Linked DNA regions of Homo sapiens. The protein of the gene in region 2 purifies or fractionates together with the protein of the main gene of each other region. This does not show direct contact. Each region holds a gene or a part of one and is shown on either strand. Other genes may lie near its edges.

Region 1 (3,500 bases), on a different chromosome or scaffold from region 2:
CATTTGAATTTTGGACTGTTTGAAATACATATTTTTGAAGTTTTGCTTCATATTTGTTAGATTGATTGACTTAAGTTTTATAACCAGAAAGTACTATAGAATATACATGATTCATGAGATGTATATTTTTCTGAAGAGTTTACATTCATACTAATAGTTTTAGCATAATCAAATTAATATCTAGGCTTCCAATTTTTTTTAACAAAAGTTAATTATAAATATTGTTTTTCCAGTTGTCATTTTTATCTTGGGAGGATATCATTAATTATAGGTACTGTTTTTAACTATATAGTTTCAACATTGTAAGTATTTACATGGTCTTCAGATCAAATTGGGCTTTTTGCTCTTATTAGAAGCTGCTTTTTGAACTATGTCCTTAGTTAAACTTGTTTTTCCTCCATATGTCACTCTCTAGGTTTGTTTTTGCAGGGTTGTAGCTAGGCTACTAGGAAAAAAGTTGAAGCATTTGTTTTGGAAAATAAAACCATGTGAAGATTTGCATGGCTTGTAAAGAAATACAAAAGAAATATGCTGGTCAAAACTTAGGTACTACCAACCTTGAAAGAATTTTTTCCTGGTGGTCTAATATTGCACAGTAAGAGGATATATATGATGCTAGCTTTTACACCTTCCTCTGAAAAATCTTAATTGGCAGACAAGATGCCAAGTAACAGCAATTCTATTACCTACCCATAAGATTGGCTCTTCATAGTAAGAAATAGTAATCGAGTGACTTGATAAGTTACCTCTTTGCTACGTCAGATTGAATATCATCATTACTGATGAGCAGATAATGCAGTGTGTTTTTTAAATTACAAGTGGAATAATTTTTTAATATGAACTGCTTTTTCATTTGACCTATTGTAAGACTGTCATTATATGTGTTATTCCTCCTTTACAAGTTTAATATTTGCTCACATTCCCCTGTAAGTTTGCTATTAATTGGATGGATGGCTGTTAGCCTAGTGTTTTATGATATATCTTCATAATATTACAGATAATTTAAATTAGGAAGAGCAAGCTAGTATGCTGGCCATGTATATTTTAATAGTGTTTTGTTATTTTTGATACAAATATTGACAGTCATTAAATATAGACTTGAGTATTAATGGTCTGCCAGACATTAACTTAATTTTCTCAAATATACATTTATTCAGTTATAGCTTGTCTACAAAAATTTCTTAGAGTCTAAAATTGAAAATGCAATTGATTATTTTAACATTGGCATTTAATTTTTACAAATATAAGTGCCTGCCTGTATCAAAGTTTCTCACCTACTCCAGAAATATATACACGTACTGTGTACCCACAAAAATTAAAAATTAAAAAAAAGTAAAGTGCTTACAGATAATGTGTAAAAGCAGTCTATTTAAAAATTGGAGGCCAGGTGCGGTGGCTCACGCCTGTAATCTCAGCACTTTGGGAGGCCGAGGCAGACGGATTACCTGAGGTCAGGAGTTTGAGACCAGCCTGGCCAACATGGTGAAACCCCGTGTCTACCAAAAATAGAAAAATTAGCCTGGCATGGTGGCTCATGCCTGTAATCCCAGCTACTTGGGAGGCTGATGCAGGAGAACTGCTTGAGCCCGGGAGTCGGAGGTTGCAGTGAGCGGAGATCGTGCTACTGCACTCTAGTCTGGCCGACAGAGTGAGACTCTTTCTCAAAAAAATAAAATAAAATAAAATAAATAAATTAAAAATTGGATACTAATCATCTGTGATGTTTATGCACTTTATTTTCATGTAGTTCCTTTTCTTGGCATGTACATCTCAATGTGTTCCACCAATGTTTATTATTAGGATATTCCTATAGTATGAAAGGATAAGGTATAGTTTCCCACATTTTGTAGATGGAGATATTAAAGTGCAAAAAAAAAAAAAATTAAATGGCTTAGGGAACATTTCATTAATTGGACCAAAATGTTGTGTTCATGACGTGTTCAATAATATTTGGAAATTACTTATGGTTAAATTTATGCCCAAGTATCTCTTTGCCTAATGTGTTCCATATTTACTTGGTGGATTTTAATTTTTTGTTCTGTTTTGTTGTTGAAATTGGGGGACAGTTTGCTGGTCTTATCTGGGTTAAGAATTTGAAGTTTTGGTATGAAGATTTAGGTAAATATTTCAAATATTTTAAAATTTTGTTTTTGCTTACTGATGCCAATATTACAGCTATAGTCAAGGTTAACTTGATGTTTCCTTTATAAAACTTGATTTTTTTGGAAAGGGGGTGAAATATCTTGGACATTAAAAATTTATTGTACAAAACTATATGTTACTAGTTTTCTGGCACTGAAATATTCATTTCTATTTATATGTACCTACCTTTAGAATAGTCAGAAACTTAATTGTAGAGTTATGTTTACCATAGTACATTTTCAATCGCATTGTGAATTTATTCTATTTTTTTTTTCTTGGTGGGTAAAGCTCTTTCTTAAATTACACCATTTGAGGGAGTTTACATTTGTTAGTTAAATTGAATGAATACACTCATGTGTTCTCTAGTTAGTGTCCACCATATAGATCAATTCTTTTAAGAGAAAGCCTTAGGTATATAAGCACTGAGTTTGTAAATTGCTAAACGGAACTGAATAAACTGATTGCCCTTCTTATTCAAGGAAGGAAAATAAAAGTATATGGAGATTGGAAGACAAATATATCAATAAGTTATTCATGCATGTATTTCAAATTTAACTTTATAAACTGTATCGTGTGTGTGTGTGTGTGTGTGTGTGTGTGTGTGTGTGTGTGTAGACAGGGGTCTTGCTTTGTTGCCCATGCTTGTCTTGAATGCCTGGCTTCAAGGTATCCTCCCGCCTCAGCCTTCCAAAGTGCTGGGATACAAAAGTGAGCCACTGTGCCTCAGCCTTCCAAAGTGCTCGGATACAAAAGTGAGCCACTGAGCCTGGCAGTGTATCCATTTTAAAAAACAAAAAACCTGATTTTGATATTTTCTGATATTCTGTTACGTTTTTAAAGGACATGCAGACTTGTTGAAAGGAAGAGCAGAAAGTGGAGAAAGTTGAAAGACTTATCAAAGCTCAGCTAGGTTAGTGTTATGTCTTAGAATCCATGTTTTTAGAGCTTAAATTGCCCAAAGTAGAAATAAATTGAGTTCTTTCTAAGACAGATAGTTTTCACTGAGGTTACAAATTTTCCTGAGGATACAAAATGAGAACATTATAATTCCCAAAAATGTTTATATGCTTTTTTTTTGCAGTTAAATTTTCTACCTTAGCTGTTAACTAAAAATGTCCCTGAATAGAAGCACTCTTTCATAATCCTATCTCTGCTTTGTTGTGGATTCAGTATTTTCATAGTTGATCGTGTGAAATCTATAACGTCTTTGATAGACAAGTATATTGTGGCCGGGCGTGGTGGCTCACGCCCTGTAATCCCAACACTTTGGGAGGCCAAGGCAGGCGAATCACAAGGTCAGGAGACCAAGACCAGTCTGGCTAACACAGTGAAACCCTGTCTCTACTAAAAATACAAAA
Region 2 (3,500 bases):
CCCACAGGTGTTAATGCCTCTGCACTTCAGGGCCCAGCAGGTGTCCACAGGTGTCCCACATAGGACACCAGAGAAGCCCCAGGGCAGGAACCAGGCATAGGTGATGTAGGTCCTTGTGAAGGTTCTGGTAGCTTGCAGCTTCACAAAGCTGACTAACCTCTGTAGAACTGGACTGAGGATGGGATAAGAGGATTGGAGTGGTGCTTACACTGCCCCTTACAGAGCTGAAGGAACAAACTAAGAGCAGAATTAGTGAATTTAAAACAAATAGAAGAAAGTAGTGTTGCTCAACTAGAAAAGCTGGTTCTTTGAAAATAAAAGGAAACCACATTAAAATAAGTAAAACACTGCTCAGCCTAACTGTATTAGTCTGCTTGGGCTGCCATAACAAAATACCATAGACTGGGTGGCTTCACCAACATACTTATTTCTCACAGTCCTGGAGACTGGAAGTCCAGGATCAAGGTGCCAGCTGATTTTGGCTCCTGCCAGGGTTGCCTTCCTGGCTTATAGATAGTAGCCCTCTCGTTGTGTCCTCACATGGGGGAGGCGGGGAGTGAGTGGTTTCGTGGGCTCTGGGTCTCTCCTTCTTCTTGTAAAGGCATCACCCCTATTGGACCTCATTTAACCTTAGGACCTTTAGTCCCACCCTTAGGACCTCATTTATCCTTGTAACCTCCTGACAGGCCCCGTCTCCATATACAGTCACATTGGAGGCTAGAGCTTCAACATATGAATTTGGCAGGGGCATAAATGTTTAGTCTCTAACTCTAACCCTGGGAAAAAGGTCTAGAAAGCACATATATTCAAAAGAAGAAGTGGGAAAAGCAAACTAGCTCTGGATATGGAGGAAATGGAAAGAATCATGAACCAGTATTTTCTGCAACTCTGTACTAGTAAAGTTGAAATCCTGGAAGAAATGGATGATATTTTAGGAAAATGTAATTTCAAGACTGACTTTAGGGGCAGTAAAAGTCAGAAAATCACTAGTCCATATGTTTTTGAATACAGTGAACAAGAGGCTCTGGGTCACGGGACTGGCTGCTACAGTGATCTCCTCTCTCAGGAGCTGACGCAGAAGTGTAGGCCTTGGCTCATTCACTATCAGAAGACTGGAAAGTTTGGGAAACAGCCTGGTTCCTAACTTCCAGCTCAGCTTCCTAAGGACAGCCTGTGCTGTCCTTAGGAGGACTGACCTCTCAAGACCTCTCCAGAGGTGTTAGGATTCTTGAGGACATTCAGAGCTCTGAGGAAGTGGGGCAGGATACTGGGGGGCAGCTGCCTTCTCCAGGCGCTGCCTCCCTGGGGTCTGACTCCCCAGGCTTGTGTACTGGGGCTGCAGCCCAGCCAGTCCAGCTTCTCCTGCTGTGATACTGAAGATAATGCTTGTGTTGAGAAAGAGAAATAAGTCAAAGATCTTGGTATTGTCCTATTTCTTGAAATGAATTGTGGATACATGACTCTTTGCTTTATTTTTTAGGCTCTGCATACATTTTATTTTATTTTTATTTTTTATTTTTTTGAGATAGCGTCTCACTCTCATCACCCAGGCTGGAGTGCAGTGGTGTGATACTGGCTCACTGCAGCCTTGACCTCCCGGGCTCAAGTGATCCTCCTACCTCAGACTCCCGAATAGCTGGGACCACAGGCATGTGTCACCACCTCTGGCTAATTTTTTTTTTTTTGAGACGGAGTCTTGCTCTGTTGCCCAGGCTGGAGTGCAGTGGCGCAATCTTGGCTCACTGCAAGCTCTGCCTCCCGGGTTCACACCATTCTCCTGCCTCTGCCACCCGAGTAGCTGGGACTACAGGCGCCCGCCAGCACGCCCGGCTAATTTTTATATTTTTAGTAGAGACGGGGTTTCACCGTGTTAGCCAGGATGGTCTTGATCTCCTGACCTTGTGATCCACCCGCCCTGGCCTCCCAAAGTGCTGGGATTACAGGCTTGAGCCACCGCGCCCAGCCTAATTTTTGTATTTTTTATAGAGACAGGGTTTTGCCATGTGTCCAGGCTGGTCTCGAACTCCTGAGCTCAAGTGATCCACCCGCCTTGGCCTCTCAAACTGTTGGGATTATAGGCACGAGCCACCGTGCCCAGCAGGTTTTATATGCACTCTTCTTCTTCTTTTTATTTTTAATTTTTATTTGTTTATTTTTAAATTTTATATATATACTCTTCAGTGTGTGTGATATGTATCAGAATTGTAAAGTCCTAGGGTTCCTGGCAGTGAATTTCAGTGTCATAGCCTGGAGTCCTAGGCACTGAGCCAGTGAACAGATCATTCCCTTCTTGGGCAGCTCCTGTTCGCACTCCTATTTGGATGCAAGCTGCCTGTGTCTTGCATTTTCTGTGAGGGGCTATGTTGCTCTGGTTGGGGTGGCTTGCCTCACACTTGTCTCTCTTTGTGTTTCTCCTTAGCTCCAGCCCTTCTCTGAGACGGGGACCAGGGGATGGCAGCCATGCACCTGACAGCCTGGCCCCAGGTGAGCTGTGGGGTCCTTCAGCTCTTCCTCTGGGCAGTTTCAGATTGAAAAACATTGAGAAGGGGAGCTGGTGAGCCTCGGGATGACAGCTGCTTCCACCTGCTGGACTGGAACTTGTGGGAAAGAGGTGTTGTGCAGGGAGGGCGGCAGAGACCAGGACAGTAGCGAGTGGAGGAAGCGGGAGAGTGAGCAGGAGAGCAGGAGGGTGGTGGTCTTCTGCACACTGAGGGTCTCTGCTCCTCTCTACAGGAGCACCCCCAGCATAGGGCTCTGGGTGAATGGGGACGTGGAAACCGCCCCTGTGGGATGTACTGTGCAGGGGTGTCAGTGGAGCACAGTCGCAGAGGATTGGACTATCTGTGGTGGGGATGTAGAGAAGAGGAATAGCAGGACCTGATCAGAGAAGGATGGCCGTGCCTCTAATTCAGGGGTAAGGGAAGGTCACAGGGAGTGGAGTCAAGGGAGGGGGAAGACAGTCACATGGGACGGAATGTCTCATTGTGCTTGTGAAGCTTTCAAAGTTTAGGATGCAGACTTTAGGTCTCTGAGAAGAGCTTTCCACCCTGTCCTGCAGGAAAGAGGTGTTGTGCGGGGAACCTGCAGAACATAAACCTGCAAACCAAATTTTCCATACATTTTCAGGGACTTCACGGATCCCCTGAAGCTCATCCATGGACTTCCATGGACTACAGGTTGGGAACAGTCCACAGTCACACCAGTTGTATCTTTGGAGGCTTACTATGCTCCAGGAGCCATACTAAGCCCTTTGTATGGTCGTTTGGTCCTGACAACCGCCTCTGTGATAAGTGCTGTGTTGTACTCTTTCCACCTAAAAAGAAAAGGCAAAAGGGGAGTAGAGTAACTTGCCCAGGATCACAGAGTTATTGTGTGATTCAGAACTGCTTAGCCATAAGACAGCTGTGGAACCAGTGATGTTAACTTGGTCAGATTTGTGATGTGTATGGAATAATTTGTAAGGAAGATTCAAAAGCACGGTGACCACTTCACAAAGAAGA
Region 3 (3,500 bases), on a different chromosome or scaffold from region 2:
ACTCACACCGAGCCTCAGTCTCCCCCTCTGTAAGGTGGGCTCTAGCGTCAACCTCCTAGCTATGAAGACTAAATGAGATGCCTCCTCTGTCTGCACTCTGCTGTAACCCTAGTTCCTCTAGAATACCACCTTGTCCCAGCAGGACCTCCCAAAATATGTGTGAAAGGCACCCGCATAAAGCACCAGTGCAGGGCCAGAAACCCAGTGACCTCTCAGCCGGGTGTCCACTGGAGCCACACTCACTGCACTGTGCTGCTGCAGCTTCCACTCTCTCCACCTTTCCAACATCATCTGACCACTCTGCCCCTCCGAGAGCTCCGGAAACACACTTCTGGCATCCAGTGACCCCCCAACCCCTGCCGTTCACCCCGCCAAACCCACCCTCCTCTCTGCCTCTCAAAGTCCCATCTTCCCCTGAGGCCCAAGCAGGGCCATCCTTACTCCAGGAAACCCTCTCCAACTACCCCTCACCCTCCTGATCCCCCTTCTGGGGGTTCCCGTGGCCTGTCAGCAGCCGCCACATCACTGTACCCTAAGTTCTTTTTTTTTTTTTTTTTTTGAGACAATCTAGTCCCGTCGCCCAAGGTGGAGTGCAGTCGCGCGATCTCGGCTCACTGCAACCTCTGCCTCCCGGGTTCAAGTGATTCTCCTGCCTCAGCCTCCCAAGTAGCTGGGATTACAGGTGTGCGCCACCACACCTGGCTAATTTTGGGATTTTAAATAGACATGGGGTTTCACCATGTTGGTCAGGCTGATCTCGAACTCCTGACCTCAAGTGATCCTCCTGCCTTGGCTTCCCAAAGTGCTGGGATTACAGGTGTGAGCCACCGTGCCTGGCCCGCCCTGGAGGCTCTGGCCAGCCCTTAGTGCTTGCCAAGTGGCATGTCGCCCCGCAGGGACAGCCCCTGCAAATCTGGGTTTGGGATCACCCTGCAGGGACAGCCCCTGCAAATCTGGGTTTGGGAGGCCAGGACACAGTCCATGGTGGAGACAGAAGTGGATGGGTGCCTTAAAAAGGGTCAGGAGGTCGGGTGTGGTGGCTCATGCCTGTAATCCCAGCACTTTGGGAGGCTGAGGCAGGAGGATCACTTGAGGCCAGGAGTTTGAGACCAGCCTAGCCAATATGGTGAAACCCAGCTCTACTAAAAACACAAAAATTAGCCGGGCATGGTGGTGCCCACCTATAATCCCAGCTACTTGGTAGGCTGAGGCAGAATAGCTTGAACCTGGGAGGTGGAGTTTGCAGTGAGCAGAGATAGTGCCATTGCATTCCAGCCTGGGCAACAAAGTGAGACTTGGTCTGTCTCTGTCTCTCTCTCTCTCTATATAATATTTTTTATTATATATATAATATTTTTAATTATATATAATATTTTAATTATATAAATATTTTTAATTATATATAATATTTTTATTATATATATTTTTTATTATGTATATATTTTATTATATATATAAAATATTTTTTTAAAAAGGGTCAGGAGAGGCACTGCACTGTTTAAGGCAGGGTAGGCGCCACCCACATCTTACCAACATGCTTGTGGTCCCCATGCAGACACCCCTCCTTCTGCGGTTAGGAACCCACTCACCTCCAACCTCGCCTATTCACTGAGGTCAACCAGAGCCCCTTTATCAGGAGGAGCAGGTGCACTGACTCGGCCTGGCCCCTCCCTCCTGAACCCAGACTGGGTAAAACTTAGAAGTCACTGACGCCACCACCCCTTTCTCTGTCCCAGGATCTGGGGCCACATTCAAGCTTAGTCTTCCTCCATCTACCTGGGGCAGGAGCCCAGGTAAGGTGGCTAAACAGAAGGGCAGAGGCCTAGGCCGGGCGCAGTGGCTCACGCCTGTAATCCCAACGCTTTGGGAGGCCGAGGTGGGTGGATCACTTGAGGTCAGGAGTTTGAGACCAGCCCTGGCCAACATGGTGAAACCCCGTCTCTACCAAAAATACAAAAAATAGCCAGGTATGGTGACAATTGCCTGTAATCCCAGCTACTCAGGAGTCTGAGGCAGGAGAATTGCTTGAATCCAGGAGGTGGAGGTTGCAGTGAACCGAGATGAAGCCACTGCACTCCAGCCTGGGTGACAGAGAAGGACTCTGCCTCAGAAAAAAAAAAAAGAAAGGCAGGGGCCTGGCTTCTGTTCCCAGACCCCAGAACCTGTGCCCCACAGCAGGCTTAGCTCCAGTCCCCAGCACCACGATCGGGCCCTATTCCCAGTGCCCCCTCCACAGCCAGTGCCTCTTACCAGGCTTTGGGATGAGTCCTTGGAAAGGCCTAGAAGAGAAACAGAGGCAGGGGTGTCATGGGGAGGGCCTGGGGGATGAGGAAGACACCCCTGGGATTCAGTGGCCTCGGTCTCCCCTGGGAGCACCCCAGACCTACAGCAGCAGAATCTGCATTTTAACAAGCTGCCCTGGGGCTCTGTGTGTGCGGGACACTGAGACAATGTGGCAGGGTGCTGGCATTGGCAGTGTCACTCTGCAGGACGCAGACCTGGGCCTTGTGCAGGCTTTGCCCTGGCTGGCCCCGGGACCTTGGGCAAATCCCTCTGATGGGGGCTGAATACCTTTCCCGGGGGCTGGGGGTGCAGTGAGCGGGTGTTGCTGAACAGGTTGAAGATGCCCTCAAAGGCTGCCCTTGCCATGGGGGGGTGACCAGTCCCACTTCTGAAGGGCTCCCTTCACTTGGGCTGGCCTGCAGTCCCTCTCCAACCACCCCCAGGACCCAGGATGGTGCCAGGAGAGCCACCTTGTCCAGGGGGGAGGGCAGGACCTAGGGAAAGGCTAAGGATTCGCAGGTGCAAGCTCCCATCTGAGCTAGTCCTGCCTCTTCACCCTCACCCTTCCCACTGAGTACCTGGTGACTGTGAACTTGATCTTGTCAGCCACAGCAAGAATCCTCTCCAGGTTCTGGGAGCCGAAGGTACAGGGCTTTCGGAACGGGATTCCTGGGGGCAGCCCCTCGATGATCACGGAGCCGGGGTTACTCTTGATCCGCTTGTAGGGGACCTGGACCGGGTACTTGATGCCCAAGGCTTCCCCTGTGGGCGAGAGGCAGGGTCCTGCCCGTCAGGAGTGAGAGGCAGCGTGGGGTGTGTGTACATGGGATTGCGGGGATGTGATGGAAAGACATGCGTGCAGGAGAGTGAATGGTACGAGAAAGCTCTTATGTAGTGTAGCACTGTGGAAAGGTATAGGCATTACAATCTGAGCTGTTTGATCAGAACATAAAAAAAAGGCCAGCATGGTGGCTTATGCCCGTAATCCCAGCATTTTGGGGAACCAAGGCAGGAGGATCTCTTAAGTCTAAGAGTTCGAGATCAGCCTGGGCAACACAGCAAGACCCTGTCTTTACTAAAAATTTCTAAAAACTAGTTGGGCATGGTAGTGCCCAGTGGGGTGTAGTTCCAGCCACTTGGGAGGCTGAGGCAGGAGGATTGCTTGAGCCCAGGAGTTTGAGGCTGTAGTGAACCATGATCACGCCACTGTACTCCAG

What was found. The genes of interacting proteins can lie anywhere in the genome.
Region 1: the proteins of ZNF23 (region 2) and ARID2 purify together in Homo sapiens (affinity purification with mass spectrometry; one large-scale study listed by BioGRID and IntAct). This does not show direct contact.
Region 3: the proteins of ZNF23 (region 2) and GTF2IRD1 purify together in Homo sapiens (affinity purification with mass spectrometry; one large-scale study listed by BioGRID and IntAct). This does not show direct contact.

What each region holds. Positions count from the first base shown.
Region 1 is NC_000012.12:45,732,706-45,736,205, forward strand, and holds part of ARID2 (AT-rich interactive domain-containing protein 2), read left to right. Parts: intron 1-3,500. UniProt on the Homo sapiens protein: Involved in transcriptional activation and repression of select genes by chromatin remodeling (alteration of DNA-nucleosome topology). Required for the stability of the SWI/SNF chromatin remodeling complex SWI/SNF-B (PBAF).
Region 2 is NC_000016.10:71,455,748-71,459,247, reverse strand, and holds part of ZNF23 (zinc finger protein 23), read left to right. Parts: intron 1-2,419; 5' UTR 2,420-2,451; coding exon 2,452-2,484; exon of another isoform or gene 2,485-2,554; intron 2,555-3,126; exon of another isoform or gene 3,127-3,155; coding exon of another isoform or gene 3,156-3,176; intron 3,177-3,500. UniProt on the Homo sapiens protein: May be involved in transcriptional regulation. May have a role in embryonic development.
Region 3 is NC_000007.14:74,558,406-74,561,905, reverse strand, and holds part of GTF2IRD1 (general transcription factor II-I repeat domain-containing protein 1), read right to left. Parts: intron 3,046-3,500; coding exon 2,862-3,045; intron 2,280-2,861; coding exon 2,251-2,279; intron 1-2,250. UniProt on the Homo sapiens protein: May be a transcription regulator involved in cell-cycle progression and skeletal muscle differentiation. May repress GTF2I transcriptional functions, by preventing its nuclear residency, or by inhibiting its transcriptional activation.